Linked DNA regions of Homo sapiens: regions 1, 3, 4, 5, 6 and 7 are each linked to region 2. Evidence: fine-mapped expression QTL. A gene starts in region 2. Each other region holds a variant in brackets. All regions are shown on one strand. Distances are from middle to middle. Region 1 holds the start of BRD9 (bromodomain containing 9). Region 2 holds the start of TPPP (tubulin polymerization promoting protein). Region 3 overlaps ZDHHC11B (zDHHC palmitoyltransferase 11B (putative)). Region 4 has its middle 17 kb from the start of CEP72-DT. Region 5 overlaps TPPP (tubulin polymerization promoting protein). Region 6 overlaps CEP72 (centrosomal protein 72). Region 7 overlaps ZDHHC11B (zDHHC palmitoyltransferase 11B (putative)).

Evidence for each region.
Region 1: its variant is fine-mapped to the expression of TPPP in whole blood (TOPMed, PIP above 0.99).
Region 3: its variant is fine-mapped to the expression of TPPP in whole blood (INTERVAL, PIP above 0.99).
Region 4: its variant is fine-mapped to the expression of TPPP in lymphoblastoid cells (GTEx, PIP above 0.99).
Region 5: its variant is fine-mapped to the expression of TPPP in putamen (GTEx, PIP above 0.99).
Region 6: its variant is fine-mapped to the expression of TPPP in whole blood (TOPMed, PIP above 0.99).
Region 7: its variant is fine-mapped to the expression of TPPP in whole blood (INTERVAL, PIP above 0.99).

The regions. Positions count from the first base shown.
Region 1 is chr5:891,722-895,721 of GRCh38, reverse strand. It overlaps BRD9 (bromodomain containing 9), which reads left to right and starts at 2,921. Exons shown (of 16, transcript NM_023924.5): 1 at 2,921-3,116; 2 at 3,868-4,000. The coding sequence starts at 3,065. It overlaps TRIP13 (thyroid hormone receptor interactor 13), which reads right to left and starts at 2,838. Exons shown (of 13, transcript NM_004237.4): 1 at 2,632-2,838; 2 at 770-935. The coding sequence starts at 2,723. RefSeq lists silencers at 2,552-3,171, 3,362-3,580 and an enhancer at 2,920-3,552. The variant G/A (reference allele first, on the strand shown) is at 1,694.
Region 2 is chr5:690,736-695,205 of GRCh38, reverse strand. It overlaps TPPP (tubulin polymerization promoting protein), which reads left to right and starts at 1,854. Exons shown (of 4, transcript NM_007030.3): 1 at 1,854-1,928. LOC101929898 (a long non-coding RNA gene) reads right to left here and starts at 1,666. Exons shown (of 2, transcript XR_925675.4): 1 at 1,484-1,666; 2 at 1-1,125. RefSeq lists enhancers at 54-932, 1,846-2,428 and a silencer at 1,602-1,851.
Region 3 is chr5:760,772-765,241 of GRCh38, reverse strand. The region is part of intron 4 of ZDHHC11B (zDHHC palmitoyltransferase 11B (putative)); the gene reads left to right. Among named protein-coding and RNA genes, the nearest start is that of ZDHHC11B, 22 kb to the left of the region's middle. The variant T/C (reference allele first, on the strand shown) is at 2,076.
Region 4 is chr5:593,042-597,511 of GRCh38, reverse strand. No RefSeq gene overlaps it. Among named protein-coding and RNA genes, the nearest start is that of CEP72-DT, 17 kb to the left of the region's middle. The variant G/A (reference allele first, on the strand shown) is at 2,441.
Region 5 is chr5:667,057-671,526 of GRCh38, reverse strand. All of the region lies in intron 2 of TPPP (tubulin polymerization promoting protein), which reads left to right. It also overlaps a transcript of CEP72 not described here. Among named protein-coding and RNA genes, the nearest start is that of TPPP, 24 kb to the left of the region's middle. RefSeq lists enhancers at 264-433, 1,722-2,476. The variant G/A (reference allele first, on the strand shown) is at 1,787.
Region 6 is chr5:638,094-642,563 of GRCh38, reverse strand. It overlaps CEP72 (centrosomal protein 72), which reads right to left. Exons shown (of 12, transcript NM_018140.4): 8 at 3,340-3,475; 9 at 1,960-2,156. Among named protein-coding and RNA genes, the nearest start is that of CEP72, 28 kb to the right of the region's middle. The variant A/T (reference allele first, on the strand shown) is at 2,655.
Region 7 is chr5:731,279-735,748 of GRCh38, reverse strand. ZDHHC11B (zDHHC palmitoyltransferase 11B (putative)) reads left to right here. Exons shown (of 14, transcript NM_001351303.2): 11 at 1,910-1,997. Among named protein-coding and RNA genes, the nearest start is that of TPPP, 40 kb to the right of the region's middle. The variant A/G (reference allele first, on the strand shown) is at 2,097.

The DNA of each region.
Region 1 (4,000 bases), 200 kb before region 2:
TCCAGTTAGGGTGTCCATCCCTCCACAACAGTGTGGGAAGCTCTTCCTTCCCTCAGACTGGCCAAAACCACGGCATTATCAGATCTCAGTGTGCACAAAGCTCTGAGCATGCACAAACATGAGTCCTAACGTATGAATGGGGAGGTCCACCTCACGAGCAGAACTTAGTACCAAGCCTGTCCTTCACAGCTGGTTCTTACAGGACAGGAATTGTACTGCTGTAAGTGATAAGTCTTCCTTAGGAATGTTTCAGGTTGTTTTTATACTGGTGCCAGAATCGCCCCAATGCCTCCACGCCCTCACACAAAGCTCCTCTAACCCATACGCATCAACTCAGATGGTGGGTGAGGTGGCCATGCATGGGATGAGATAAAGGAATTCTATAAGGCAAGCCCATCTTCTCATCTCTGTGGCCCCACACCTCCTATGGTCCTAGCACACACTGAGCACTTTATAAACATTTGCTGATTGAAAGAATGAGACATGGCACACAGGCCTTACCAGCGCAGCCCACTATTGTACAGCACTGCATTCTCATTCCTGGTTTCCAATCTGTTACTGCTATACTGAGAGCACCCCGACATCAGGGCTACTTCCTACTCCCAGCACCTGGCTCCTGACAGCTAGTGAAAAGAACTTGTCTAGCCACCCAAACCAACAGAGAAGTGAACCTGTTTCTGACAACAGGCTATGAAAACGGCAAGACATTCATGATACAACCTTTTGTATTCAGCTAACTGTTCCTTGGCCCAGCAAATTAGTAACTTACCTGTGAGTCTTTAACCTTTAATTCTGTGTCAATAATAGACACAGACTGCACATTTCTGGTCAAAAAAGGTTCATCAAACTCAGTCCATGTGTAATCACCAAACACAATATTATGTCTGTTGAGTAGCTTTCTAACACTCAGGTTTATGTCTTCTTTCTTTGCAGTGCTAAAAAAAGAAGCCAAAACACACATAAATGATCTTAGTTCAAAAACAAAATGTTAAAATGAAGTGTTTTGAAAAACTCAGACAATACATAAGAAAGCCCAGTAGTTAACAGGGTAAGTTGGAGTTGGCCTGCCTGGGACCAAATCTAGAGCCACCCCTTGCCTGTGGGTCCTCTACCAGCTGTGCCCTGAAGAAGCTGTGCCTCAGCTCCCAGTTAGAAAAAGGGGACAACAGTAAGAGTTCTCGCTATGCTGGGCTACTGTGAAGTCATTAATACACTCAAAGTGTTTAGGACGATACCTGGCACATAGTAAGCACGCAATAATGTTGGCTTTCACTATTACTAATGAAGTTCCACAGCTGTGGGGTCAGGCCTGGGGTCTGCATTGTAACAAGTCTCCAATAGCCGTGATTCGTGCTGAGAAAATCTAATGCTTTCAGCTTGGTATCCAGGGCTTCCCTTGGTCCCCCTTGCTGCAGTCCTCCTAACACCTCCCCTTTCTACAACAGTGACCTGGTCCCGGATCACACCTCTGTGCCCTGCTATGCACTGTCCCAGCTTACTGGCCTGATCAACTGCAGTCACCCTCTAAGTCCTATTCAATGTCTGCCTCCCTCTGAGCCCTCCTGGACAGGCTCCTCAGAGCCAGGCAGGTGACATGTGGCCCCTTTGCAATCGTCCCAGCACCCTACAAGCAGCGACCACCATGCATAGTGCGGTTGTGTGCAGGTGTCTATGAACTCTGGTGCAGTTGTAC[G/A]TAGGTGTCTGTCCTCTAGGTGCAGCTGTGCTCTGGTGTGATTATGCCTAGCGTCTCTGGGCCCAGGTGTGGTTGTACATGGGGTGTCTCTAGGCTGCGGTGGCACTGTGTACAGGTGTCTCTGAGCGCTAAGGTGTTTACACAGGTGTCGCCAGGCTGTGATGGGGCTTTGTGCAGGTGTCTCTGGGCCCTGGTGCAATTATGCTGACGTGTCTGAACTCCAGCACCTAGAAAATACCCAGTCAACAGCTATTCTGTTAAAGGAAAGGTCTCTTCCTCTGCATCCCCTCTGAGGCTGGTGGTCTCACCTGACCTCAATCCACCCTCCGTGGACATAAGGAGGGTCTGTGAAGGTCTGGCCCCGCCGCTGAGTTCCCCCCACTCCAGGGAGCAGCACAGCCCACAGGCCCCACCATACCATGAACTGACTTGGTCACAAATGAGTGGGATGTGCTTTGAACCCTAAAAATTTAACATCGAGTCCGTGAGGAACGGGAACAATTAAAGGGTCTGAGAAGCAGTGGCTCAAAGAATAACCACCCAGCTTTCGGCTGAGACTAGAGCTCTCTGTAATGCGCAGCCATCCTATTCTCCAACGTGGGACTCAGGGCCACATCAATGCACTGGAGGACAGCCGGGGCAGGGGCAGGGTCAGGGCCAGGTCCGTGAGCTGAGGTCGGGTCGGGGCTCAATCTGTGAGCTGGGGTCCTGCGCGCAGGGCTCGGGTCGGCCGGGTCAGTGCCCTGCGGTGGGGTCGCGTCATTGCGCTAGGATCCGGTCGGGGCCCGGCGGCCTGTGCGCCCGGGTCCAGTCGGGCCGGATCAGTACCCTGGGGTTCGGTCGCATCAGAATCAGTGCGCTGGGGTCGGGGCTCGGTGCACGCGCTGGGGTCGGGGCGGGTGGGTGCCCAGAGGATGTGTCGGACAGGTCCGGCTCACCTGCTGCCGCGCTGATGCACCTCCACGTGGACCGTTGGCGACTCGGCCACACAGGGAAGCGCCTGCTTCAGGTCGCCCACGGCCTCGTCCATGGCGCCCCCGAGAGCAGTGGGGACCCAACCAGGGCGCGGCCGCCGCCACCTCACGCCCAGCGTCGCCGCCACAGCCGCTGCCTCAGCCCGCGGGCCCCGCCCTAGCTTCGAATCTGCCGCGCGAGGCGCACCACCTCCTGACCCGGAAGCGCTCGGGCCCGGCAGGGCCACTTCCTGCCGCGGCCCCGCCTCGCCCCGTTTCCGGCGCGGCCCAGCGAGCTCGGCAACCTCGGCGCAGCGAGCGCGGGCGGCCAGCCAGGGCCAGGGGGCGGTGGCGGCCAAGGTCCGACCGGGTGCCAGCTGTTCCCAGCCCCCGCCTCGGGCCCGCCGCCGGCGCCGCCATGGGCAAGAAGCACAAGAAGCACAAGGCCGAGTGGCGCTCGTCCTACGAGGGTGAGGCGGCGGCGCTTTGTGACGCGCGGCGGGCGGGGTCCCGGGCACGGGGGAGGAGTTCCGGGCACGCGGACGGGGGTCCTGGGCACCGGGCGAGGTCCTGGCCACGAGGGAGGGGTTCTGGGCACGCGGGAGGGGGTCCTGGGATTTCGGGCAGGGAACCGGGCACACGTGAGGGGTCCTGGGTAGGCGCTTACGTTCCTGGTAGAGGGTTCTGGGTTCGAGGCTGCAAGCCCACTCACCCCGGTCCTGGAGACTAGGGAAGCATCTGTGCTGGCTTTTGTGTGGAGCTCAGGGAGAAGCTGGGCTGCCCTTTCTCCCGCCTTTCCCTCCCTCTCCCTTGCTCCCGCAGCAGCTCCATGGGTGTCAGCGGGCAGCACGGGCGCCTGCAGGAAGTCAGGCGAGGGTGAACCGAAGTGCTGGGGGTTTCTAGGAGGGAGATCGGGCTCCGGGGTTCCAGGTCCCTCTTAATCCATCTTCTTGAACGAGTAATGTGAACAACATCCCACAGGGCCTCTGGTGAGGACACCGTGGCTCGAAAGGGACCTGAAGCTCCCTGCGGAGGGGAAGGGAGAACAAGGAGGCAGTGACATGCCGCCACTGTGGTCTTCCCTTCCGTCTTTCCCTGCTGGTTGGCAGCCCCGCTGTACTCCTTAGGGAGGCCTTTCCCTCTTAGCACCTTCACGTCTCACCTGGCTGCGTGGCGTTTGCACCTGAGCACGCGGGTAGAACTCGGTCTGTGTCTGTGCAGATTATGCCGACAAGCCCCTGGAGAAGCCTCTAAAGCTAGTCCTGAAGGTCGGAGGAAGTGAAGTGACTGAACTCTCAGGATCCGGCCACGACTCCAGTTACTATGATGACAGGTCAGACCATGAGCGAGAGAG
Region 2 (4,470 bases):
CAAGCCAAAGTTTCACCCACAGACAAGGAAACAGACTCCATGAACACGCCGACTCCCGACGGTAGAACCGGGGTGCCCACCCCAGCCCCGGTCACTGTGTGTCCTGCGCAGGGGCCAGGGCAGCCCAAGGCTCAGCTCTGTCCTCCTGCCCAGACCTCGCTCAGCCCCCTGGACGCCGCCCCGCGCCCGCTGCCTCTCCTCTCCTCTCCTCCCAAAGGCTCCAGGACCATGTCTGCCTCTGAAGCCTGACGTTACCTCCCACTGCGATTTTATTGTAAACTCACTGCATTTATGTCAAGAGAGTTTGTACAGGTTTTGGAAAATGCACTGAAGAGTCCCCTTGTGCCTATTAGGACGGTAAGAACACACCAAGGAGAGATTATTTCATTATTTCTTTGATGCTGTTAGTAGGATCTACCCGAGGGGGAGGCACTCCGGGCTCCGCGGGACGAGAAGGCAGCCGAGCCCGCACCCGAGCAGGAGGGAAGCAGGAGCCGCAGCGTGGCCGCCGCACAGCTTCGGGGGTCCCCCGACTTCCCAGCTGCGAGTGTGGAATTTCTCAGGAGAACTAGACAGAAGCCCATCTCTGGGCAGCACTGAGTGGAAGGAGAAACCACAGGAGAGGAGAGGAAGTGTGGGGCGCGGGACCACCGTGGGGTGGGTGGGGGCCAAGCCGCCGGGCTGTGAGGCCTCAGCACCCCCTGCCCAGCACCCAGCACCCCAACTTCCCCTTCTGCCTTTGCGGATTCCAGGGCCTGCTGGACACCTGGTGCAGGGACAGAGCCGGGGCTGGGGGAGGAGCTCAGCTGCACTAGAGTCCAGCTGGAAGAGTCCAGCTGAAAGTCACCAGAGGCACCCCTTCCTCCTGGGGGGCTGCGCCTCGGCCTCCTCCAGGGCAGGTGCCCCTATGCCCCTCAAGTCCCAGCACCCAGCACCACAGAACCGCCCTGTCATCTCGGCCCCGGAACCTTGTGGGGAGCCAACTCCTGCGGAGGGCCGGGCAGCCCCGGGCGGAATGAGCCCCCTCCGCAAAGCCTGTCTGGGGAGCGGGGGAGGGGCGGCAGGTGCCCGGAGAAAGGCGAGATTGGAAGAGCGGCCGGGATGGTGGCGCTGCATACGGGCGACCTGCAGGGAGAACGGAAGCTGAGGCCGGGGTCAGGGGTGCGCGCTCCGCTCCTCCACTCCTGCGTGAAGGGCGGCCCACTCCCGAGCAGCTGCGCTGGGCGCCCGGCACGGACCCGTCTCCCTGCTCAGGTCGATCCCCGGCCGCGCTGCCCCCACCTGGAAGCCCAGTCCCCTGGGTGCGCCCCGCCTTGGGGTCCGAGCACCCTCACAGCCCGGCCCTGCCGCTTCCCTGCACCGTCTGCGGCTCCTTAAAGAACTGGGCGCGGTCGGGGCTCGCCCCGCACCGTCCTCGAGGCCCCGCCGCCAACCCACCCCACCCCAGGAGGCCGCGGCCGCGCTCATCCATCCCCCGCCGCACCGTCAACGCGCGTCCTGCGGGGCGGAGAGATCGGGGTCCGGTCGTCCCCGGGGGGCCCCAGAGCCAGGTGAGGGGCCCCGCCGCCCCCTGCCCAGCGGTTCCCACGACCCGCGGGTCGGCCGCGCCCTGCGCTGAGCGGATACCCGGCGGTCCGCGGGGCCTGAGCAGAGTCGGCCTTGTAAGGCAGAGGTCTCGGTGCGCCCGCGCGTCCCCGGGCCGGGTGGGGCGGCGGGGGCGGGGCTGCCAATGAGCGCGCGGGGCGGGACGCTGGGCGGGCGCCGGACGCTGGGGGCCGGGGGCGGGCCCGGGACCGGGCTGGGCGGGGCTGGGCGGTGCTGGGCGGGACGGGCGGGCGCGGGGCGGCGGCTGGAGAGCTCCGCTGAGCACCGGGTCGCGCGCGGCCGAGTCGCGGAGGCGCCTCCGCTGCAGTCGCTGCGTCTCCAAGGTAAGCGGGCGCGGGGCTCGGTCCCGCGGGCGCGGCGCGGGGGGCACCCGGGGGCGGAGACTGGGCCCGTCAGCCCCAGCAGCCACCTGCGCCGCAGCCCCTGCCCCCCGCGCTCCCCCGAGCCCCCTTCCCGGACCGCCCCGCGCGTCCCTGAGCCCCCGGATTGGGATGCCCGGAGTTCGGCGCTGCGGGCTCGGTGCGAGGACGCGACGGGGAGGCTTTGCAAAGGCCGCGAGCGGGGGTCACCGTCGGCCGCGCCAGGGACAGGTCTGTCACCGTCTCCGGGCCCTGTGCCTGGCGCTTTGGCCTTTCTTCGCGGCCACGGACGCCCCTGCAGCCCTTCCCTCCAGACCCTCCCCAGCTCGGGACTCGAACCGTTTCCCTATTCCCAGGCCTAGGGGGCCGCCGGTGTGAGGCGTGGGAAATTAGGGCGTGGAGGGCTGGAATGAAGTCACTGCCCGCAGCAGGTTTTGAGAGATCCCTGGCCACAGAAACGGCCCATCTCAGGGTCCTGACACCACCGCGTCCTGGCAGGTGGGGCTGTCAGACCGCCCCCCGCAGAGCCTCCAGCTGCCCCGGGTCTTGGCTACTGTCCGCGGGCCTGTGGCGATGGAGAGGCGCTGCCGGGACACCTTCCCGCACCCCTGGGAGCAGCGCCCGAAGATCTGAGGAGCCCTTTATTCTGCGGTTTCGGTTACGTAAACGGAGCCGAGGGAGGTGAGAAGCCTGTCCCTCCCGGGCAGTGGCGGGGCTGCTGTTTTGATAAGGGTTTTGGGGGGGCTGTTGTCTTGATGGGGGTTTGGGGGGCTGCTGTTTTGATAGGGGTTGGGAGGCTGCTATTTTGATACGGGGTTGGGGGCTGCTGTTTTGATAGGGGTTTGGGGGGCTGCTGTTTTGATAGGGGGTTGGAGGGCTGCTGTTTTGATAGGGTTGGGGGACTGCTGTTTTGATAGGGGGTTGGGAGCTGCAGTTTTGATAGGGGTTTGGGGGCTGCTGTTTTGATAGGGGGTTGGGAGGCTGCTGTTTTGATAGGTGGTTGGGAGGCTACTGTTTTGATAGGGGGTTGGGGGGCTGCTGTTTTGATAGGGGTTGGGGGCTGCTGTTTTGATAGGTGGTTGGGGGCTGCTGTTTTGATGGGGTCTGGGGGGCTGCTGTTTTGATGTGGGGTTGGGAGGCTGCTGTCTTGATGGGGGCTTAGGGGGGCTGCTGTTTTGATAGGGGGTTGGGGGCTGCTGTTTTGATAGGGGTTGGGAGGCTGCTGTTTTGATAGGGGTTGGGGGGCTGCTGTTTTGATGGGGTCTGGGGGCTGCTGTTTTGATGAGGGGTTGGGGGCTGCTGTTTTGATACGGGTTGGGGGGGCTGTTGTCTTGATGGGGGTTTGGGGGGCTGCTGTTTTGATGGGGGTTTAGGGGGCTGCTGTTTTGATGGGGGTTGAGGGCTGCTGTTTTGATGGGGGTTGAGGGCTGCTGTTTTGATGAGGGTTGGGGGCTGTTTTGATGGGTATTTGGGGGCTGCTGTTTTGATGGGGGTTGGGGGCTGCTGTTTTGATGGGGGTTGGGGGCTATTGTTTTGATGGGGTTTGGGGGGCTGCTGTTTTGATGGGTATTTGGGGGCTGCTGTTTTGATGGGGGTTGGGGGCTGCTGTTTTGATGGGGTTTGGGGGCTGCTGTTTTGATGGGGGTTGGGGGCTATTGTTTTGATGGGGGTTGGGGGGCTGCTGTTTTGATGGGGTGTTGCGTTCCCTCTCAGTGTCACCGCTGATCCACCTGGCATGTTTATTGGCTCTTCTGCTTGCAGGGCCCCTGGGGGACCGATAGAGGACTGGGCCCCTCCGCCCACCCCGGCCACCCCTCCCCGCCTGACTTCTCAGGGGGAGAGGTCTCCCCCCACGCCCAGCCAGCCCCTGCCCCTGGGAGGTGACCCAGCTCCCTGTGGCCTGGGACTAGGAGATGGGGCTGGACCAAGGCCGGGAAGGGGCAGGAAGTGGAGGGGAGTGAGGCAGCTGCAGCCTGATGCCGCCGCCTTGAACTGGGCTCTCGCGCCTGTCAGCCGCTCGGTGCCAGCGCCTCCCCACCACGTGATCCTCGGAGGGCCTGTGGGGGAGGGGCGGGCTCCCGGAGCGGCTGCAGAAGGCGAGCTCCAGGAGGGTGTGTGCGTTTTCCCGGGAGGGGTCTGCAGCTTTCATGGTTTCTAAACGGATCTCTGATTCAGAAAGGCGCCGGCATGAACTCGCTTTGCATCTTCACAAAACATGAAGTCATGGGGATTGGACCGCGTGTGCGTGGAGGAAGCTCCGCTGGTCACTGGCTGCGTTTTAATCTTACAGCTGCGGTTGGTCTATCTTCCCGAATTCCCTGAAGTTGCAATAAATGTTTTAGCGATTATACGAGGTTATAAATGCTCGTTGTGGAAATGAGCATAGAATGCTCACAGAAATGGTCAACAGGGGCTTCCTTTTGACCCCCTACCCTAATTTGCAAGCCTCACACTGGCAGTGGCTGCCCTAGGCCTGGGAATCGGTAAACAGGGTTCGTGCACCGGG
Region 3 (4,470 bases), 70 kb before region 2:
CTGATTGGTGTATTTACAATCCCTTAGCTAGACATAAAGATTCTCCAAGTCCCCACCAGATTAGCTAGATACAGAGTGCTGATTGGTGCATTTACAAACTTCGAGCTAGACATAGGGTGCTGATTGGTGTATTTACAGTCCCTTAGCTAGACATAAAGGTTCTCCAAGTCCCCACCAGATTAGCTAGATACAGAGTGCTGATTGGTGCATTTACAAACTTCGAGCTAGACATAGGGTGCTGATTGGTGTATTTACAGTCCCTTAGCTAGACATAAAGGTTCTCCAAGTCCCCACCAGATTAGCTAGATACAGAGTGCTGATTGGTGCATTTACAAACTTCGAGCTAGACATAGGGTGCTGATTGGTGTATTTACAGTCCCTTAGCTAGACATAAAGGTTCTCCAAGTCCCCACTAGACTCAGGAGCCCAGCTGGCTTCACCTAGTGGCTCCCACACCGGGGGCAGGTGGAGCTGCCTGCCAGTCCCGTGCCATGTGCCCGCACTCCTCAGCCCTTGGGTGGTGGATGGGACCGGGTGCCGCAGAGCAGGGGACGGTGCTCACTGGGGAGGCTCGGGCTGCGCAGGAGCCCATGGCAGCGGGGAGGCTCAGGCATGGCGGGCTGCAGGTCCTGAGCCCTGCCCCGCAGGGAGGCAGCTGAGGCCCAGTGAGAATTGAGCACAGCTACAGCAGACCAGCACTCCTGGGGGACCTGGCGCACCCTCCACAGCTGCTGGCCTAGGTGCTAAGCCCCTCACTGCCCGGGGCCGGCAGTGCCGGCCGGCTGCTCTGAGTGCAGGGCCCGCTGAGCCCATGCCCACCCCGAACTAGTGCTGGGTTCCCGCCTGTGCCTCTCCCTTCATACCTCCCCACAAGCCGAGGGAGCCGGCTCTGGCCTCGGCCAGCCCAGAGAGGGACTCCCACAGTGCAGCAGTGGGCTGAAGGGCCCCTCGAGTGTGGCCAGAGTGGGCACCGAGGCCGAGGAGGTGCCGAGAGTGAGCGAGGGCTGCCAGGGCTGCCAGCGTGCTGTCACCTCTCAACACCACTGCGTGGTCCTTGGGCTGGGCCATCCCGGGCAAGTCTCTGGTAAATGGTGAGCGTGGTGTGTATCGCTGTGGTGCAGGCAGGGAGGTGTAGGGGCTGGATGCAGAGTGAGCAGGTGCCATGAGGACAGCAGCCTGCCAGCCTGAGTGCCTCAGCCATGGGCAAGGCCATGTCTCTCTTTCCTGAAACTTGTTCCTGTGGCGTCTTTCAGTTTATAGAGGTAGAGAGTACAGTCAAGCGGACCCGCAGGTGCCAGTCACCTGCTTCAACAGTGAAGCTTTTGCTAACCTTGTTTTATATCTCACATGCATGTGTATCCGAGTAACCTTTAAAAATCTCGGACATCGGGAAATTTCACCTGTAAATGCTCCAGTTTGTGTCTAACAAACTTTTATTTTTATAACACCATGCTTTATCTCACTTAAAAATATCTCACTTAAAAATTATATAGCCATTTCTTAACATCCTGTATTCGTTCTTATCCATGTGGCCATTTCCCCAATTTTCGAAACAAGTCTCTACAGATGCGTGGCTCACATCAGGAGCCCACGTGCCATGGGGCTGCTGTGTCCCTGAAGCCCCCTTTCCTCCATCCGTTTTGCTCCCAGGCCTTTGACTGGTCAGAGAAACTGATGCCTTTGCCCACAGGAGGCCCCTCAGTCTAGACTTGGCTGGATTTTTCCCCAAGTGCAACAGTCTCCCTTGTGGGAAGGCTTTTGATAATGAATTCAGTTTCTTTGATAAAAAAGCTATTCTGTTTCTCTGTTTTCTTGTTTCTATTTTCATAGGTTGTATTTTTCTTCTTCTTCTTCTTTTTTTTTTTTTTCCCGAGATGGGAGTCTCACTCTTGTCACCCAGGCTGGAGTGCAGTGGTGTGATCTCGACTCACTGCAACCTCTGCCTCCTGGGTTCAAACAATCCTCCCGTCCCAGCCTCCTGAGTATCTGGGACTACAGGTGTGTGCCACCACGCCCAGCTAATTTTTGTATTTTTCAGTGGAGACAGGATTTCACCATATTGGCCAGTCTGGTCT[T/C]GAACTCCTGACCTTGTGATCCACCCACCTCGGTCTCCCAAAGTGCTGGGATTATAGGCGTGAGCCACCGCGCCTAGCTGATAGGTTGTGTTTTTCAGGAAATTGGAGTATTTCATGTAATTTGTCATATTTCTTGGAATACAGGTGTTTACAGTGTTTCCCACAATCCTTTTCCCATCTGTAGGGTCTGAGTGCTGCGCCTTCCTTCCTCACTATCCTGGCCATTTGTGTCTTCCTACCTCTTCTTCATCAGTCTTCCTGGGGCTTATCCCTTTTATTGATCTTGAAAAGAGTCAGCTTTTTAATTATTAATTTTCTCTATTGTTTGCCTGTTTTTATTCTATTAAAAAAAAATTCTGCTTTTATTTTTACTACTTCCTTCAACTGACCTTGGGTTTACTTTGCTTTTTTTTCTATCATCTTAAGACGGAAACTTAGGTCATTGATTGTAGACCTTTCTTACTTTTTAATGTGTGTTTAAAGCTATGTATTTTCTGTGAGCACATGCACAGACCCGGGCATGCACAGACAGATACACACTGCCAGTAAGGCTTTTGGCCTCTCATTCAACCACCCCATCTGGCTTAGTGATTCAAGGGTGTCTCCCTGGGGATTTGGGGCTCAGTCTCTGGGTCTTGGGGTGCCTTGTGCAGCTAAAGTTCCCTTGGGAGGTCAGGCCACACCCTATCTACAAGTCTGAAATGGGCTGGGTCCAGCTGGTCTCACAGAGAGCCTTGCCAGGGGTCCAAGGATGTGCTTTAGTGAGAGACGTGGGTGCTGACTGTGGCATACACTCATCCTGGGCGCTATCTTGCTGCATCCCTCTTGCAACCTGCGTCTTGTTTGTAGGTGGCTGTCTGGGGCTGTGAGTGGCCGTTGAGGCTGTGAGTGGCCATCTGGAGCTGGCATGACTGTCCAGGGCTGGGAGTGGCCATCTGGGCTGTGAGTGGCTGGCCGGGACTGTGAGTGGCCGGCTGGGACTGTGAGTGGCTGTCCAGGGCTGTGAGTTGAGTGGCCATCTGGGCTGTGAGTGGCCGTCTGGGGCTGGGAGTGACTGTCTGGGGCCATGAGTGGCTGTCTGGGCTGTGAGTGGCTGTCTGGGCTGCAAGTGGGCATCCAGGGCTGTGAGTGGCTCTCCAGGGCTGTGAGTTGAGTGGCCCTCTTGGCTGTGAGTGGCCATCATGGCTGTGAGTGGCCAGCCAGGACTGTGAGTGGCTGCCCAGGGCTGTGAGTTGAGTGGCTGTCTGGGGCTAGGAGTGTCTGTCCAGGGCTGTGAGTGGCTGTCTGGGGCTAGGGGTGGCTGTCTGGTCTGTGAGAGGCTGTCCAGGGCTGTGAGTAGAAGACTTTGTGTCCCCCTGTCTGCTCCGTGGCCTTCCCAATCCTAAGGGATTTAGGGAAGCAGTGCTCACTTCCCAAGAGGCCTTTTCTGAGAGGCCCTGAGTGTGCCCAGTCACCAGAGTGGGGGTTCCATGGGGTTCTAAGGCCTGGACACACATGTGGGGGTTCAGGCTTCTACCATGGGAGGTGCTGGAACGTGGCAACCCACGTGTCCACCCGGCACACACTGCCAGCCTTGCGCCCCTCCACTCATCAGGAGGACAGGTCATAGTTCTGAGTAGTGGCCTCTCTCTGCCAGGCCCAAGGTGTGCCCTGTGGCCCTGCTGGCATTCCCCAAGATCCCCTGCCATTGGCCCAGCTTCTGCTGTGGCCCAGCCTCCGAGTTCTCCACCTACATCCCTGAGTCCCCATACCCCCAAAGCCTGGGTCCTAGATGGCCTCCCCCACCTCCAGGGCCCAGAAATCCACAGACCCACAGAGCTGCATGGCAGCCCCATTGGCCCCGGGTGTCCTGCAGTGAGGGATGAGGATGTCACTAAAGCCCACAGTCACTAACCCTGTGCTGCACGGCCCACCTCCCTGCTCTAGCACATGCCCTCCAGACACGGGTGTCCTCCTGTATTGCACCTTCATGGCAGGTGAGAAGACAGGCTGTGATCGGACCGTGGTCAAGGCAGTCCACGCCAACATTCTCCAACAGCCCCCAGATGTGCTTGACAGGATTTTTTAATCCAGAATCCGGCCGAGGTTCTGGGCATGTTGCGACGGAGTCTCTTGGTGTGTTTAGGTCAGCACAGCGCCCGCCTGCCTTTTCCTGGCAGCTGCTGGTATCTCCTTGACCACAGCATCATGGCATATCCAGACCAGTGTCTTGCTCCACCACCTGGGGGTCTGTGTGGTTGAAGCTGAGCAGTTTCAGAAGAACGCTGCACAGGTGGTGGTGGCCTGTCCCGCTGCACTGTCAGGAGGCCCTGTAGGTGGGGACGCAGCGGTTCCTTGGGAGGGTGGGCCGGGTCACTGCCCCTGCCAGTCCGGAGTGGTGCACATGTGGACTCTG
Region 4 (4,470 bases), 98 kb after region 2:
TAATGTTCGTGCATTGCCCTCTTAATGTCTGTGGGTCAATAGTGATATATCCTCTTTCATTATTGATACTGGAAATTTATCTCTCTTTCTCCCTTGCTAATCAGTCTGGTTAAAGCTTTATCAATTTTACTGATCTTTTCAAAGAACCAGCCTCTAGTTTATTGATTTTTCTTTGTTGTCTTTCTGTTTTCTATTTCATTGGTTTCTCTTATCTTTATTCTTTCCTTCCTTCTGCCTGCTTTCAGTTTAATTTGCTCCTATTTTCGTAATTTCTTAAGGTGGAAGCTTAGATTGTTGATTTATAATTTTCTTCTGTTTTTAATATTAGCATTTCTTTTCTAACTAAATGCTTGTAGGGCTATAAGCATTTAGTTCTATAAATTTCTCTCTAAGCACTGTTTCATTTTGCTATATTTTTCATTTTCATTCAGTTCAAGTGATTTCCAGTTTTTCTGAGCCATTCTCCTCAACATTTGCATTGTCTAAGGAGTGTGTTGTTTAATTTCCACCTATTTGGAGGTTTTCTAGGCATTTTTATATTATTGATTTCTAGTTTAACACCATTGTAGGTTTTTTGTATTTTAAATTTTTTCACATGCATTTTATGACCAAAAAGAAAGTGTATGTAGATGTTGTTTGGCAGAACGTTTTATAAATGTTAGTTAGGTCCAGTTGGTTCCTGGAGCTGGTCAGTTCTTCCATATCCTGCTAATTTACTGTCCACTTTTCTATCAGCTACTGAGAGAGGAGTTGTTATGGACTGAATTGTGTCCCACAAAATTCACATGTTGAAGCCCTAACCCCCAATGTAACTGTATTTAGAGACAGGGCCTGTAAGGAGGTGATTATGGTTGCAAGAAGTCATATGAGGGGGTCCGATTCAATAGGACTTATGTCCTTACAAGAAGATGGAAAGAAGCCAGGAATCATTCACTCTCCACACCAGCACAAAAAAATACCATGTGAGAACACTGAGAAGTCAACCCCAACAGCCTTCATCTTGGTCCTCCAGCTTCCAGAATGGTGAGAAAACAAATTTTTGCCCTTTAAGGCCCCAGTCTGTGGTATTTTGACATGGCAGCCCTAACCAACTGAGATGGGAATGTTGGGGTCACCAATTCCAGTATGGAGCTGCCTGTTCCCTTTCAGGCAGCTCTATCGTCTTTGTCTTGTGTGTTTGGAAGCCCTATCGTTGGGTGCATATGTGTTTAGGATTACTAGGTCTTCTTGGGGAGTTGATCCTTTGTCATTATGCAACGTCCCTCTTTACTCTTAGGAATTTTCCTTGCTCTGAAATCTACTTTGTCACTCCAGTTTTTTTAATTGGTGTTTGCTTGGCATATCTTTTTCTATCCTTTTATGTTTAATCTGCCTATATTTTGTATTTAAAGAGGGTTTTTATAGACAGCCTGTAGATAAGACTTGCCTTTATCCAGTCTGATAATTTCTGCCTTTAATCAGTATGTTTAGATCATCTACATTTATATTCATTACTGATGTGTCTGAATTTAGGTCCAGCATTTCTTGCATGTCCTCTATTTGGCACCTCTGATTTTTTCTCCTTTTCCCCTTTGCATGTCTTCTTTTGGATTATTGGGATATTTTGTGGTATTTCATTTTGATTTATCTAATGGTTTCTTGAATTCTATCTCTGTGTATTGTCATTCTAAGGATTGCAATATACATTCTAACTCCTCCTCACCTTGCCAGTCTATGCAGAATTAATATTTTACCACTTCTGGCTGGAATGCTGGGACCTTGTCCCCACCAAGGCCCCTTCACTGTGCCCTTTGTCACAGTCATCGTATTGCACCTGCACATATTGAAAATTCAACCAAGCAATGTTGTTAATTGTTGCTTTCAACCATCATATGTACTTTAAAGACTCATCTACATGCTGTCTACAAGAAACTCATTTTCAATGTAATGATACAGACTGTTTCACAGTCAAAGGATGGGAAAAGAGCTATCAGGCCAACATCAGTTACACAAAAATCCTCAAACAGCTCTATTCATGTGAGACAAAATAGATTCAGAGCAAGAAAAGTCACTTGGGGTAAAGAGGAGAACAATAGTGTGCTGTGTTTCCTTGGACATTTACTGCTTGTCTTGCCCTTTCTTCCTTCTTGGGGTTGTGGGTTTTCCTCTGTATCTTCCCTCAAGCTGAAGAACTTGCTTTGGCATCTTTTAAAGCAGGTGTGCCGGCAACAAATTCTCTTAGTGCGTCCTCACTGGAGATCATCAATTTTTCTTTCATTTCCGAAGGGTGTTCTCGCGTCGATTTTTCCTTCGTTTCCGAAGGGTGTTCTCGCATCGATTTTTCTTTCGTTTCCGAAGGGTGTTCTCGCGTCGACTTTTCTTCATTTCTGAAGGGTGTTCTCGCGTCGATTTTTCCTTCATTTCCGAAGGGTGTTCTCACGTCGACTTTTCCTTCATTTCC[G/A]AAGGGTGTTCTCACGTTGATTTTTCATTTCTGAAGGGTGTTCTCGCATCGATTTTTCCTTCGTTTCCAAAGGGTGTTCTCGCATTGATTTTTCCTTCATTTCTGAAGGGTATTCTCGTGTTGATTTTTAATTCATTTCTGAAGGGTATTTTCGGTCGATTTTTTCATTTCTGAAGGGTATTCTTGCATCGATTTTTCCTCCATTTCTGAAATTCTCACAGATGCACAACTCTGGCTTGGTGCTTCCTTTGGTTTCTTGTTTTCAATGTTCTTCCACATCCTGGTCTGCACAGCATCTGATGAGAAACTGCAGCCGGGATTATTGTGCCCTGTAGGGGATGTGTCATTTCTGTCTGACTGCTTCTCTGGAACTAATTAAATAAGTTAAACCAGTGCTTTTTCTCCAGGAAACACTTGGACACCTGTCTTTTATCACCTACTTGTCACTGTGGGAAACTCAGCTCTCAGCCCAGGGGGTAAAGCAGATGTTGACAGGTGGTTGGAAATCAATTGCCCTCCTTGGCTGACATGAGCCCCAGGGAGCATGTTGACTAATCAGTGGCCTTTGGGGAAAGAGCAGTATCAGGTCCAGAGAGAGGGAACCATCCCCAGTGTATCCAAAAGAGGAAGCACACTGTTGTGGGTACGATTGAGTTCCCCCTCAGAAGGTATGTCCAAATCCCAACACCCAGTGCCTTATTTGGAAATCAGGTCTTTGCAGATGTCATTAAATAAGATGAGGTCACACTGGACTGGAGTGAGCCTAATGATGACACCCTTATAAGAGAGAGAAATTTGGACACACAGACACACAGAGAAGGAAGGCCAGCATAGTGTGATGTTGTCACAAGCCAGGGACAACCCAGAATTGTGGACAACACCAGAAAGGGAAAGAGGCAAGGAAAGTTCCTCCCTGGAGCCTTTGGAGGGTGCATGGTCCTGTGGACACCTTGAATTACACGTCTCATCTCTGAAACAGTGACAGAATACACTTCCAGTGTTTCCAGCCATGCGGTGTGCAATAATTTGTTACAGAAGTCCTAGGAAACACGTACACACACCTTTTCTTTGTGTATTTAGCCTCTTTGTCCTTAAATCCCATAAGTCTGCTTTGGCCAAAGATGCAGGTCCCCACTTCTTGGCCGTAAAGAGAAGGTTTCCCTGGCCTGGCCACATTGCTTTTTGGTTCAGCCTCATTGCTGACTTAGGGACAACAGGAACTTATCCCCAGGAGAGGTTCTGAGGGAAGCAAGAGGCTCTGTAGCCTCTTGCCAGGGGCCCGGCGTCTCTTCAGTATGGACAGAATTGAACAAGTGAATGGCCTGCTCCTGAGTCCCACTGGCTAAATTAGGGGTCGGGCTTTGCTTTCCACCCCGAGTGTGAGTGCAGCAGCCAGGCTCCCCATCACAGCACAGGGTGGCACATGGATGGGGCAGTGCCTCTTCCACAGGAATGCCAGCAAAGCCACATCCTGAGGCCATAAGGTGGCTCCAGTGGTCAGTAAAGATCTGGCCTCGGCAACGTGTGGGACTCGTGGGACATGTCACGGAACAGAGTGTCTAATGGCAACAGGCTGGGCTGTGACTTCTGCCCTGGGCCAGGGACATGCACAGTGTGTCTTTTTGTTTTTGTTGTTGTTTTTGAGACGGAGTCTCGCTGTCACCCAGGCTGGAGTGCAGTGGTGTAATCTCAGCTCACTACAAACTCCACCTACCTGGTTCAAGTGATCCTCCTGCCTCAGCCTCCTGAGTAGCTGGAATTACAGGCACACGCCACCACACCTGGCTAATTTTTGTATTTTTAGTAGAGACGGGGTTTCACCATGATGGCCAGGCTGGTCTCAAACTCCTGACCTCAGGTGATCCACCTACATCGGCCACCCAAAGTGCTGGGATTATAAGTGTGAGCCACCGCACATGGCCCACAGTGCATCTTTAAATATTAAACAGGAAAAGAAATCAACCCAGGAAATTCCACTTCCAAAAATGGAAGTCTAGATCACCTATACCCCCCCAGATGCCAAGGATAAC
Region 5 (4,470 bases), 24 kb after region 2:
CTTTGCCCCATGAGCCTGACCAGGCAACACAGGTCATTTGAGAAGGTGATCTCCAAACAAACAGCCAGAAACTGACTTCAGGTGCACAGACCAAAGCCCTGCCCAGGCCGAGACTGGGGTGGATGGAGGCAGCCGAGCCCCTGGGGCCCCCTAGAGAAGGTCGGGCCCCTCAGATCTGCCCGGGGTCCCTCTGGGCCCCAAGTCCACGTCCCACCAAGGGCCACCTCTTCCTAGTGATGTCCACAGGGCGGTGACTACACACGCCCCACCCCCGCCCCTCCCCAGGAAAACGAAAAGGCCGGCAGCAACGCAAAATTAATTAGCAGCAAGCGCAGGGTGTGCGCCCAGAGGGAGACAGTGCGCTGATCCCAGGCGGCCCCTCAGGCAGGGGGGAGCCTTCGGTAGCCAGACCTCCGGAGCTCAGGCAGCCCCCCGACCGGCTGTGTGGGGGCTTCATGGTGGGTGTGCCTGGGGTTAGAGCTGGTGCAGCAATGGGAGGGCCCTGGCCCTCAGCCCGCCCTGGGGCCTGAGCTGCCGTGGCCCAGTGGACGTTGCCATCCATCCTCTGAGCCAAGTAGGGTGCAGGAAGGGCTCCGGTTTCCTGAGATGAGGGGAGAAGCCCTCTCAGGTGGCCAGACATCACCTCACCTGCCCCCAGGTGCTCAGCTGCTGGTGGAGTCACTTATGAGGGGAGAATAGGCAGGGCCTGGAGGGCTTGCCACCGACCTCTGTCGGCCCCGGGAAACGTTGCTCTAGGTCCTCTGTATCTTGCTGGGGCTTGCGGGAGGCAGGGGCGGCCAACAGGCATGGGGAACCCCAAGGCTGGGTCCTGCTGGAACGGGACCACTGGACCCTCCTGGAGCAGTGAGAACTCGGAGCGACGTGCAGGATGGCGATGCCAGACAGGGCTCCCCTAAGGCCGCGTCCCTACCAGGTAGGAACCTCCCCAGAAGCTCCCCCTCCCCCCGTGGGGCCCAGCAGCCAGGGAGTCCTTCCCAGCCTCCTCAGGTCTCAGGGGCTAATGGAAGATCCCAGAGGTTGGTGCCCTGGGGGAGCCGCAGCCCCTCTCTCTCAGACTCGCCTAAGTACAGGGAGAGGCTGTTTCCCCAGAGATTCCCCTCCACAGCCCCCAGCTTCCCACCTGTGGCAGCCTCTGGACAGGGCACTCCAGCCACAGCAGCTGCAGGCCCAGAGAGCCCAGGGGAGCTGGTAGCTGTCACCTCGCCCGCCGGCCCCCGCCCCTCAGAGAGGGCACCATGGGAGGGCATTCCTGATTCACAAGGGTGCTGGATGCACAGTCCCGAGCCCAGCGGGGCCTGTGACGTCCGCCCCGGAGGAACAGGCCTCAGTCCTCGGAGGGCTGTCCTGGCCTGAGCCCAGCTCCTGGAGGCCCCAGGCCGGGTCCCAGTGTCCCTGAGAGACTGAACCAGGCCCAGAGGCCAGGGGACTCAGAGCCTGGGAAGCAAGTCCAGGCCCCGCAGGGCATCGTGTATGAGCAGCGGCTGCGTCCTGCTGGGCCGGCTTTGGGGCAGGGCGCCGGGCTGGGGAGAGCATGGGCAATGAGGATGCCGAGCTCCACACTCGGAGGCTCCTCCAGCACCCTGGTCTCTGGAGGACAGGCCCACTCTATGTCAGGAGAGCCGGGCAGCCAGACTGAGTGTCTCTGGGGAAGAGGCAGGCACCGCTGTCCTAGAACTCCTGAGGACTGCCCCAGGCGGGGGGCACCCGGGTCTCCTGGGGAGAGCTCCCCGCCCGTGTGGGGCAGAGACCCGGGCGCCCTTTCCCC[G/A]AGACACTCGGGGAGCGCGCAGAGCAGGTGTCCGGATCTGAATGTCGCCTCTGATGGGGGAGCCCCTCAGCCATCCCCCTCCCGCCGAGTGACTCATGCTGGTGGTGCCTGGCTCCGAGGCCGTCAGAAAGGGCTGCGTGCCTCAGCACTGGTCACCAGGCTGGCAGTCAGGCCTGGCGTCCGCATGTCAGCTTGGGCAGGGTGGGAATAGAAGACAGGAGAGCCTTTGACGGCCCAGGACAGACAGAGGCCCCAAGGGCCCCAGAGAGTCAACACCCCCACAGGGCCCAATGGGCACTGTCAGTTCCAGGCACTGTGGGCTGCCTGGGGTGGCCTGGCTCTTCTAGCACCACAGGGAACGTGCGGGTGTCCACGCCGAGCGCGTCAAGGGGCTAAATCCACCCCCAACACCGCGGACCCCCACGCCACAGAGCTGCCCAGGGCACCTCCGGCTCACCGGGCTCACCAGCGCCCCCTGGGGGATGCTGCTGGACAACAGCGCCCTATGGCCGGCGGGTCTGGAATGTGCCCTGCGTGGCTGCCCTCAGCAGTCCAGGCCCCGCCCTGGGGCTCTGTCTCCCCAAAGCCCCCTCCGGACACAGCGAGGCCTCCGCTCCCCTCCCTGGGACCCCATGAGGCGTGAGGGTCTGAGCTGTGGGACCCCGAGCACTTGGTGTGTTTCTCAGCGCGATTTCTTCTTTGGCTCAGCGCTGTTGATGGTGTCTGTTGTGTCTTTAGGACACGCGTGTAAAGTGTATGGGAACCCTCAGGTGCTGTTTAAACACAGCATCCGCCTTGGGGTCTGGGAATCACCCAGCGGCACCTCCGTGCCTGGCTCCAAGCCTGGCCACTTGGCACCCACCGCGTTGGGTGCGTATCCTGGGCTTGTTCTCGAGGGGTGGGGGTGCTGTCCACGTGCGCACACATCACAGCACTGTGGTCTGGCCGCTGCTGAAGGGCACTGGATTGTTTGGGGTTTGGTGACTACGAGCAGAACAGTGGTAAACATTTGCGTTTATGTGTGAGCCTCTGTTTTCATTTCTCTTGAGCAAGGACCCAGGAACGGGACTGCTGGGCCACCTTTGGCTGTGATGAGAAGCTGTCCACAGTGGCTCTGCCGCGTTGCTCGGCCGGGTGTGGACGAGGCCCCCACCCCGCGGCCTGCTCAGCTCGAGGTGCCGGCAGTTTATTTGATTGTCTGAGCCCCCTGGAGAGTGTGCAGGGGCCTCGCTGTGGTTTCCATCTGCACTTCCCTGACGGCGCCCACGCGGCCCCCTCTCCGTGTGCTTGTCCGCACTTCCCTGACGGCGCCCACGCGGCCCCCTCTCTGTGTGCTTGTCGGTACTTCCCTGACGAGGCCCACGCGGACCCCTCTCCAGTGTGCTTGTCCGCACTTCCCTGACGGCGCCCACACGGCCCCCTCTCTGTGTGCTTGTCGGTACTTCCCTGACGGCGCCCACGCGGACCCCTCTCCGTGTGCTTGTCCGCACTTCCCTGACGGCGCCCACACGGCCCCCTCTCTGTGTGCTTGTCGGTACTTCCCTGACGGCGCCCACGCGGACCCCTCTCCGTGTGCTTGTCGGTACTTCCCTGACGGGGCCCACGCGGACCCCTCTCCGTGTGCTTGTCGGTACTTCCCTGATGGGGCCCACGCGGACCCCTCTCCAGTGTGCTTGTCGGTACTTCCCTGACGGCGCCCACACGGCCCCCTCTCTGTGTGCTTGTCGGTACTTCCCTGACGGCGCCCACACGGCCCCCTCTCTGTGTGCTTGTCCGCACTTCCCTGACGGCGCCCACACGGCCCCCTCTCTGTGTGCTTGTCGGTACTTCCCTGACGGCGCCCACACGGCCCCCTCTCTGTGTGCTTGTCGGTACTTCCCTGACGGCGCCCACGCGGACCCCTCTCCGTGTGCTTGTCTGTACTTCCCTGATGGGGCCCACGCGGACCCCTCTCCGTGTGCTTGTCTGCATGCACGTGTCTTCTCTGGTGGTGTCTGCTTCAAATATTCTGCCCGTCTTTTCACATGGATTTTTTTTCTTACTGCTGAGTTTTAAGGTTCCTTTGTGTATCTCAGAGACAAGTCCTTTCTCAGGCATGTCTCCTAGTCTGTGGCTTGTCTTCTCATTCCCTTAACGGTGTCTTCTGAGAGCAGAGTTTCGAACGTTTTGATGAAGTCTAGTTCATCCATTTTTTCCACTATAGGCCATGTTTTGTTGCCATTTCTAAGAAATCTTCGCCTAACCCCAGGTCACAGAGATCTTCTCTTTGGTGTTCTTCTAGAAGTTTTAGTTTCATAATTAGGACCGTCATCTATTTTGAGTTAGTTTTGTATATAGTGTGCAGTATAGACCAAAGTGCATTTTAATTTGCACAGGGATCACCAGTTGCTCCAGCTCCACTTGTGGAAGAAACAGTCCTTTCTCTCTGGCTTGCCTCTGCACCTGTAGACATCGGGGGGGCAGCATGCATGTGGCTGAGCCAGACTCCCCCTGGGCTGCGGGGCTGGCCGCGTGCCCGTGCCCACGTCGCTGCCACTTTGCAGTCAAGCCTCGATGAGCTTTGGAGTTGGGTAGTCAGTCTTCTGACTCTGTTCTCATTTCTTGAAATCGTTTTGGCTATTCTAGGCCCTCTGCTCACTGACTTCTGGAAAGGCTTGCTGGGGTTTTATGGGTCATTTGTCCCC
Region 6 (4,470 bases), 53 kb after region 2:
TGGTGCTCGGCACACCTTTGGGCTCCGCCTGTCAGCTCTGTCTCGTCCCAGGCTCAGAAGGGCAAGGGGTGTGCCTGACTGTGTCCCACAGAAAAGACATCATCAGTGACGGCGCCCAGCTCACTTTCCAGACAGCCGGTCACGTGTGTTTCAGTATAAAGGCTTCCAGACGGGGGGCCACACGTGTTTAAATATAGAGGCTTCCAGAGAAGGGGCCATGTGTGCTTAAATCCAGAGGCTTCCACCAGATGAGGGGCCATGTGTGTTTAAATACAGAGGCTTCCAGAGGAGGGGCCACGTTGGTTTAAAAGCAGAGGCTTCTGGACGGGGGACCACGTGTGCTTAAATGCAGAGGCTTCTAGATGGGGGACCACGTGTGTTTAAATGCAGAGGCTTCTAGACGGGGGACCACGTGTGTTCAAATGCAGAGGCTTCTGGACGGGGGACCACGTGTGTTTAAATGCACAGGCTTCTGGACGGGGGACCACGTGTGCTTAAATGCAGAGGCTTCTAGACGGGGGACCACGTGTGTTTAAATGCACAGGCTTCTAGACGGGGGACCACGTGTGCTTAAATGCACAGGCTTCTAGACGGGGGACCACGTGTGTTCAAATGCAGAGGCTTCTGGACGGGGGACCACGTGTGTTTAAATGCACAGGCTTCTGGACGGGGGACCACGTGTGTTTAAATGCACAGGCTTCTGGACGGGGGACCACGTGTGCTTAAATGCAGAGGCTTCTGGACCGGGGACCACGTGTGCTTAAATGCACAGGCTTCTAGACGGGGGACCACGTGTGCTTAAATGCACAGGCTTCTGGATGGGGGATGGGGGGCCATGTGTGTTTAAATGCAGAGACTTCTGGACGGGGGATGGGGACCCACGTGTGTTTAAATACAGAGGCTTCCAGATGGAGGAGGCCCACATGTGTTTAAATACAGAGGCTTCCAGATGAAGGCCACGTGCAGAGGCTTCCAGGCGGGGTGGGGGGGCCACGTGCGTTTAAACAGAGGCTGCCTGTGTTGTTTTGCTGTGTTTTTCTTCTCTAAAGAGGAAGCGTTGTGTGGGATCTCTGAGATGTTGGTTCCCATGAAACGGACAGTATGTACTTGTCAGACAAGTTCAGAGGCAGTTTTCGAAGCCGTCCCGGGCCGACTTCACTCGCAATTTAAAGATGCTGACAAGGCCCCTCTGGATGTGCACATCCTCACGTGGCTCTGCCCTCACACCAGGACTCCCGGAGGGCGGCTTCTGCCTGGGTGTGGCTCTCTGACCACCAGCTCCCTGTGCTAAGGATGCCAGCAGCCCGTGGGGAGGCCCTTGCAGCGTGGAGGGAGCCTGGGAGGATCCTGTCCCGTGAGGCCTCAGATGAGACGGTGGCCCCAGCCCACGGCTGAGACAGAGCCCCCATGAGGCCTCAGATGAGACGGCGGCCCCGGCCCACGGCTGAGACGGAAGGAGGGAGCCTGGCTGAGCTGAGCCTGAGGCCCAATACACAGAAATCCAAGGTGATAAATGCAGGTTTTCAGCTGCTGGTTTTGGGGTAACTTGCCCTGTAGCCCCAGCTCACCATGGGACACTGGCCGTCATCTCCTTCATAAAAGGAGAGTGGCCTCGGTTTTCCCCAGTTCGAGGCCCTGAGAGATGGGTCAGCAAGACAAAGTCACGTCCAGGCCTGGCTCCTGCAGCACCCGGCACTGCCCAGTGGTGGAGGGTCCCTTGGGCCCGGGGAGAGAAGGTGGCCAGCGCCACTGCTGTCTCCAAAGTGCTCCAGGCCTGTTGTGAGACAGGGCAGGCCGCGTTCCGGGGGTGGCCGGGTCCCGGGCAGGGAGTGGAGACATGGGGCTGCAGAGATGGCAGTTGGGACAGTGTGGCATCAAGGAGCTGCCCTCGTTCCTGGAAGTCAGAGCCATGTTTCCCCCAGTCACATGGACACAGACACAGCGCCAGGGCGGGCTCACCAGCTCCTTGTGTGTGTGGTGCAGCTCCGCCGTCACCTCGCTCATCTCCCGGGCGTGCTGCTGCTGCTGCTCAGCAAGGCGGCTTTGCAGGGACTTACTCTCCAGAGCCAGGGAGCCGACATCTTCACCCACCATCGCAGAGCTGTCCTGAGCTGCTGTGAATTCTTCAACAGATGACAAGATGTGTCTTGCCTGAGCTAGGAGTGAAAACCAAATATTACATTAGCACTTAGGCTTAAAGGATGAAATGTAAACAAAATCGGCTCAGTATGTTTTGAATCACACAGACGATGCCTCAAAAAGACGACAGGTAGGGAGAGGGGAAAGGGGTGTTGGCGCCACAAAACCACCTCAGGCTCTGTGCGTCCACACACGGGCAGGGTGGGAACTGAAGAAAGAGAAGAGGTGACCTCCAAGAAAAGGGGCAACCAGGGGCCGCCACGTCTCAAGGTTTCAGTGGCGCCGCCACAACTCGCTGCGCCTTCCACAAGCACCGACTGCCCTGTGTGGAAACCACCATGCAGACGACAGCTGGCAACTCCACACTGGGACAGTGGCCTGGGCCTGGGACAGTCCCCCCGCCACCGACGATGGCAAGCTCAGGAGGCTCCCACAGGACACCAGCCTAGGGAGAGGGGAGGTTTATGGGGCTGGGGTCCAGGTGGGCTGCGACTGCAGGGCGTCCTCATTCTAGG[A/T]GCTGAGGGGCTATAACACTGCAAGGCGCAGTCAGACAGCTCAGAGCCGTGCCCAGGGTCTGCGGGGAGAAGCACACTGGCTAGGCTCCTGAGGGACACACACAGCCACACCCCAGGATGCAGGACAAAGAGAAGGTGCCCCTGGGGACGCGGCATCTCCTGGTCTCCCAGTGTGATCCTGGATGAGGGAGGCCCCAGTGTGCTCATGTACGGGTTGCCTGGTAGAATCCAACAGACCCAAGTCCTCTCTGGGGAGGGACCACCCTCCTGGGTCCCACACCAACCAAAAGCTCTGCAATCCAGGCCCAGCACAGGCTACACGTCTGGGTCGGGGGAGAAGATGCTGAGCAGCTTCCAAACTCCAAATCCCCATGTGATCACAGCCATCAGAACCAAGCCCCTTTGGACAGCATTTTGAGCAAAATGAGGTGACAGGCCCCCCAACACCCCAGAGCACAGCGGGGGACCCACAGGCCCAGGCCCATGTGGTGTCTCCCGAGAGCCCTGGACACTGTGAGATGCAAAGACTGCCAGGGAGGGCCCAGGCGCGGGACCACCACACGCTCGTGGGAGGGGACATAGGAGACCTGGGGCTGAGATGACTCCTAGGTCACCACACGCAGAGGACCCCGGAACCCACACAGACGCTGCCTACAGGGCAAGAGCAGTGGCCGCCCTGACTCACCAAGGAATGCCTCGTTGCTGTGCAGGGACCTGCAGCCGCCCCAGCTCCTGTCCACCAGGTCCAAGAGCGTCTCCAGGAGCGCCGCCTGCAGGGCCGTCTTCTTCCCGGGTAGAGCCGAGTGTGACCCGGGAGACGGCTGTGATGGAAACAACAGCATGAGGCCAGCGAGTCAGTAACTGAGGTCCTGAATGCCAGCAGGTGCCCAAGCGCACCCTGGGATGCCCTCGCACCACGAAGGGGAGGACAGGTGCCCTGAGGCCCCAGCCCTGAGCCAGGTGGAGGGCGGCTCAGCAGTGCCTGCCCAGTGAGGCTTAGCCAGGTGCACCGGTCCTGGATGAGTGAGGTCTCGATGACAGGACAGGACGGGGCCCACACATTCCCAACTCAAGCAGGCCCCAGACTCCTCCCCTCAACCCAGACAGGGAAGCGGAAGACACATCCAGGCCGCAGTCAGAGCCTGTGTTCAAAAGGAGCTGCCCAGGAAGCAGCCTGCACCCACAGTCAGGCTGGTAGAGGGTGCCAGGCGCTGTCCCCAGCAATGGCCCGGAGTCAAACAATAACCCTGAAACAGACCGCCCACCTCCCCCATCTCTGCCTCCTTCCAGCTCAGGACCTGCCGGGGACGTCAAACACGCCCCACCCAGCTCTGGGACCCCCCCCCACCCCATGCTGCTACGGAGCTGCCTCTAGCTCCGGCCATGCCTCCCTTCCTGTCCCACAGTTCCGCACCTTCAAGCTCCTCTGCCTGCATGGGAGTCTGAAGCCCTCGTTGTGGCAAGTACCAAGTGAACAGCCCCTGCCTGTTCCCTTCTGGGTGGTCTGCACTCATGTCTACAGCAGGTGTGTCTCAACGCCTCTGACTGGGCCTGCGCCAGTTGTCCCCCTGACCTCTAGGTCACCCTGAGGGTGGAGTGACTCGGTCTCTCATCACAGCGACCTCCAGGATCCTCCCCTCACGAAAGGGTCATCAATGGCTCAGCCGGCCAAGATGCCCGATTCCAGCTTTGGAGACAAATGCCCTGTGCACCGTAAGGCAGAGTCCCCTCTCTCCACCACGGGGCTTCCACTCAGAACAGCAGCGCAGGACAGCGTGTGGCACAGAGGCACACGTCCAACAAAACGCAGCAGCAA
Region 7 (4,470 bases), 41 kb before region 2:
ACAGACATTTTTTCTACTTCATTTAGGAAACATAGTTTTGCTGAATACAAAATTATTGGCTGTTAATTATTTTGCTTGGAGAGGCTAGAGATAGGACCCCAATCCCTTCTAGTGTGTAGAGTTTCTGCTGAGAAATCTGCTGCTAATATGAGAGGTTTTCCTTTAGAGGTTACCTGATGTTTTGCCTCCCAGCTCTTAAGATTCTTTGATTTGTGTCGACTGTAGATAACCTGATGACCATGTGCCTCGGTGATGATCTTTTTGCAATGAATTTCCCAGGCATTCTTTGAGCTTCTTGTCTTTGGATGTCTAGAACTCTAGCAAGGCCAGGGAAGGTTTCCTTGATCATTTCCTCAAATAAGTTTTCCAAACTTGTGGATTTGTCTGCTTTGTCAGGAACACTATTTTTAGGTTTGGCTGTTTAACATAATCCCTAAGTTCCTGGAGGCTTTGTTCTTTTTTAAAATTATTTTTTTCCTCTTTGTCTGGCTGGGTTATTTAAAAAGCCTTGTTTTTGAGTTCTGAAGTTCTTTGTTCTACTTGTTAGATCCTGCTGTTGAAAGTTTCTGGTGCATTTTCCATTTCTCTTAGTGTGTCTTTTGTTCCAGAAGTTGTGACTGTGTTTTCTTTAGGATCTCTATTTCCCTGGAGCATTTTTCATCTATATCCTGTATTGATTTTTAAATTTCTTTAAGTTGGTTATCACCTGTCTTTGGTATCTCCTTGAGTAGTTTAATAATCAACCTTCTGAATTCTTTCCAGCAATTCTGATTTTCTTCTTGGTTTGGATCTCTCACTGGGGAGCTAGTGTGGTCTTTTGAGGGTGGAATAGAGCCCTGTTTCATGATATTACCAGGATTACTCGTCTGATTCCTTCTCATGTGTGTAGATTATTTCAGTGGGAAAATCTGGAACTCAAGGCTGCTGGTCAGATTCTTTAGTCCCATGGGGTGGTCCCTGATTTGTGCACTGCCCCTTCCCCTAGAGATGGAGCTTCCTGCAAACCAGACAGCAGTGATTGCTATTGTTCTTCTGGGTCTCTCCACCCAGCAGGGCTACCAGGCTGGTGCTGGGGAATGTCTGCACAGAGTCCTGTGATGTGATCCGTCCTCAGGTCTCCCAGCTGTGGATGCGAGCACCTGCTCCGGTGGAGGTGACAGGGGACCGAAGTGGACTCTGTGGAGGTCCTCGGCGGCCGATAGGTTTACTGTGCTGACTTTCTCAGAGGCTGGTTATTCTAGCAGTGAAGTTGTCACATGGGCAGACTCAGGACCTCTGGTTATCCAGGATGTTGCAGGAGGTGGAATAAGCTCTTGTTTTCTCCTTCCTAGGAGCAGGGTTGTTCTGTCATGAGTTGCTGTCATGTCCTGAGCTGATTGGCCTCCAGCCAGGAGGTGGCACTTTTGAGACAGCAGCGGAGTTGTCACCTGTTCTGTGGAATTTGCAGTGGCCTATGGCATCTTCCAAAGGCTCTGTGACTTTTTGTTTTTTCTGGTATGCTGCTGTGGTGGTTCCTGGAGTGAAAGGCCACAGTATGAGTCTCCACATGCTGTTCTGTCTCTCCATGTGGGAGCTGCATATCAGACCTGTCTCCCATCTGCCATCACTCTTCAGAACCCGTCTTAGGCACTGGTGTAGGGCAAGTCTCACACGGTGGGTGGAGGGACTGCTTTGCATTGTCCCAGTGGCAAAGAGTCATGGTCCTTTACACGAGAAGCTTCTTACGTGTGCCACTGCACATAACGCAGGAGTACTTAGACAACCTCCCAGGAGCTGCTGGTCTACAAGTTTTTGAGACATGTGTGCCCCACAGCAGTGGTGCTGACACGACGCGGTGCAGCCTCCAGTGCCACCCTGAGCCCCCCCACAAAGCTGAGATGAGTTTCTCTCCTCCTTCCTGTCCCACCAGAGTCAAGGCCAAGAGCTCCCTGCTGATTTACAAATGCCCATGTCACTTCTGCACTTCAGTAAACCAGGACGGGGATTCGAAGGCACAGGTAAGTTGCAGTCACCAGCAATGCACCCTGAGGACAGGGCCGTGTGCAGAATATGTGGTCTCGGGTCCCCCAAGCTGAGGTTAAGGCAGTATTCAGAAT[A/G]GAAGCACTCTGTGTCCAAGGGTGCTGCTCACATGGGAATGATGGTGGGTGGAGCACAGAAGAGAGATGGAGTGAGAGGCAGGAATGCTTCCCAGCTGTGGGTGACAGAGACAGATGGGTACCAAAGTGGGAGCCCCCAGCACTGGAGCACCACCAAGAAGCTGCGGTGATGGGCAGATGCCCAGGGCAGGGTCTGAAGTGCCCAGAACATGCAGCGAGGGACAGTGCTGTGATAAAGGATGGAAGGAGATTGGTAGCCATGGCAGAAGCCACATGCTGTGTTTTTAAAATAAAATGCTCAGGAAGGACTGTGTGTGGGAGACAGATGGGAATAGACGATGTGTGTGTGGTCACACGTACAAGTGTATGGTGTGTGGTTGCACATATGTGGGGGGGTGTGGTTATGTGTGTGGTTTTGTGTGTAGTGTGTGGTCAGTTGTATATGTGTGTGAATGGTGTGTGTTTGTTACATGGACTCTGTGTCCATCCTTCACAGGAAAAGACCAGCGCGGCTGCCGGCTTTAGGGCCACATATTTCTGTTCCTGCTCTGGGGTCAGCTTCCAGTGGTTTCTGCTGGGTCATTATTTATTTTTTAGAGATGAGATCTCACTCCATCACCCAACATGGATGGCAGTGGTGGGATAATGGCTCACTGCAGCCTCCAACTCCTGGGCTCAAGCAATTGTCCCACCTCAGCCTCCCGAATAGCCGAAAGTACAGGTGTGTGCCACCACACCCAGCCAATTTATTTTTTGTTTTTTATTTCTTAAGAGATGGGATCTCACTCTCTTGTCCAGGCTTGTTTGGAACTTCTGGTCTCAAGTGATTCCCCAGGCTCAGGGGAATTAGAGGCGTGAGCCTCTAATAGCACAGGGATTAGAGGCGTGAGCCTCCATGCCAGGCCACAGGCTGGTCCTTTTGAGCAGGATTTGTGAGGGGGCCAGTTTCTGGAGGTTACAGGTGACTTGTCCTTCCCTGTGGGGGCAGGGCCGCCTCACCGCACTTCCCCAGGATTTCAGGGAACAGGCTCCTGTGACTTGGAAATGAAAATGGATCACCCAACCTGGAGGAACAGTGAGGCTGGTGTCCAAGACTTGCCCCTTGCCTGCACTTCCAGCAAAGATTTGGAGACACTCAGTGGAAACCAATCGAGCCCCCAGCCCACCCCCGCCCAGACTCAGCCACCAAAGTTCCCTCACTGCATGTGGCACACGGGCTCATGGGAGTTTCTCTGCCTGCGATTGTCCACGTTGACACCTTCTGCACAGGTGCATTTGTGAGTCCCCTCGGTGTCTCTGCAGCATCTATGTGTGGATGAATAGTGAAGCCACATGAGGCCTGGTCTGAAGCAGAGAAGATCCGCTCAGCATCACGTTGAATCCCAAGCCCGCATCTCCGTGGGCTCCAGGACAATCCTATGAAAATGACACCGTCGGTTCATTGTTCACATCGGGGAGGAGAATTCCGTCTGAAAATGAGCGTGACTTCACTGACACCCAAGTCCGTGGCACAGCCCTGTGCTGAGCTCCACAGACCTACAGTCCATCGCCTCCCCTTCGAGTGGGCCCAGGGCTGCAGACAGCATTGTCCAAAGAAGACACCCTGACTCGATGAATGGAACAAACTGGAAACTCCAGAAACAAGCCCTTCTTTACATTTCTGGTGTTTGGCCTAAATGGAAGGTGCCAAGGTGAGGCAATGGGGAGACATGGAAGGGTTTGTAATGACTGTGCTGCAGCAGCTGCATAACCACATGCCAAACACACACACACAGCTCAGTCCCACCTAGAAAGCAGTGCACAATCCATCAGAGACCTCATAGTAAGAGGGGGAAACTTTAACATTCCTACAAAAATCCTAGAATATCTCCGGAGTCTTGTGTTAGGCAAACTCTTCTTTGATAGATACCAAAAACACTATTTCACAAAACGGATACATTTGACTTTAAGCATTTAAAATTGTTTCTTCCATTGTCACCAGTAAAAGAATGAAAATATCAGCCACAGGCTGAAATAAAATATTTACAAGTCATATACTTTTATCCAGAATATTTAAAGAACCATGAAAACTCAAAAATACACAACAGCTCAGTTTTTAAATGGGTGAAAGATTGAACACGTTCTTCACCAAGGCAACAATATCCATGAGAAATAAAGCCCACAAAATGGTGCTCAACATCATTTGCCACCAGGGAACCACCAGCTAAAATCACAATAAGATACTGCTGCACCCCATTAGAGTAGCTGCAAGAAAGCAGATTAAGGGTACCATCCAGGCACAAAGCTTCACACCTGAAATCCCAGAGCTTTGGGTGGCCCACAAGGCAGGAGGATCCCTTGAGGCCAGGAGTTTGAGACCACTATGGGCAACATA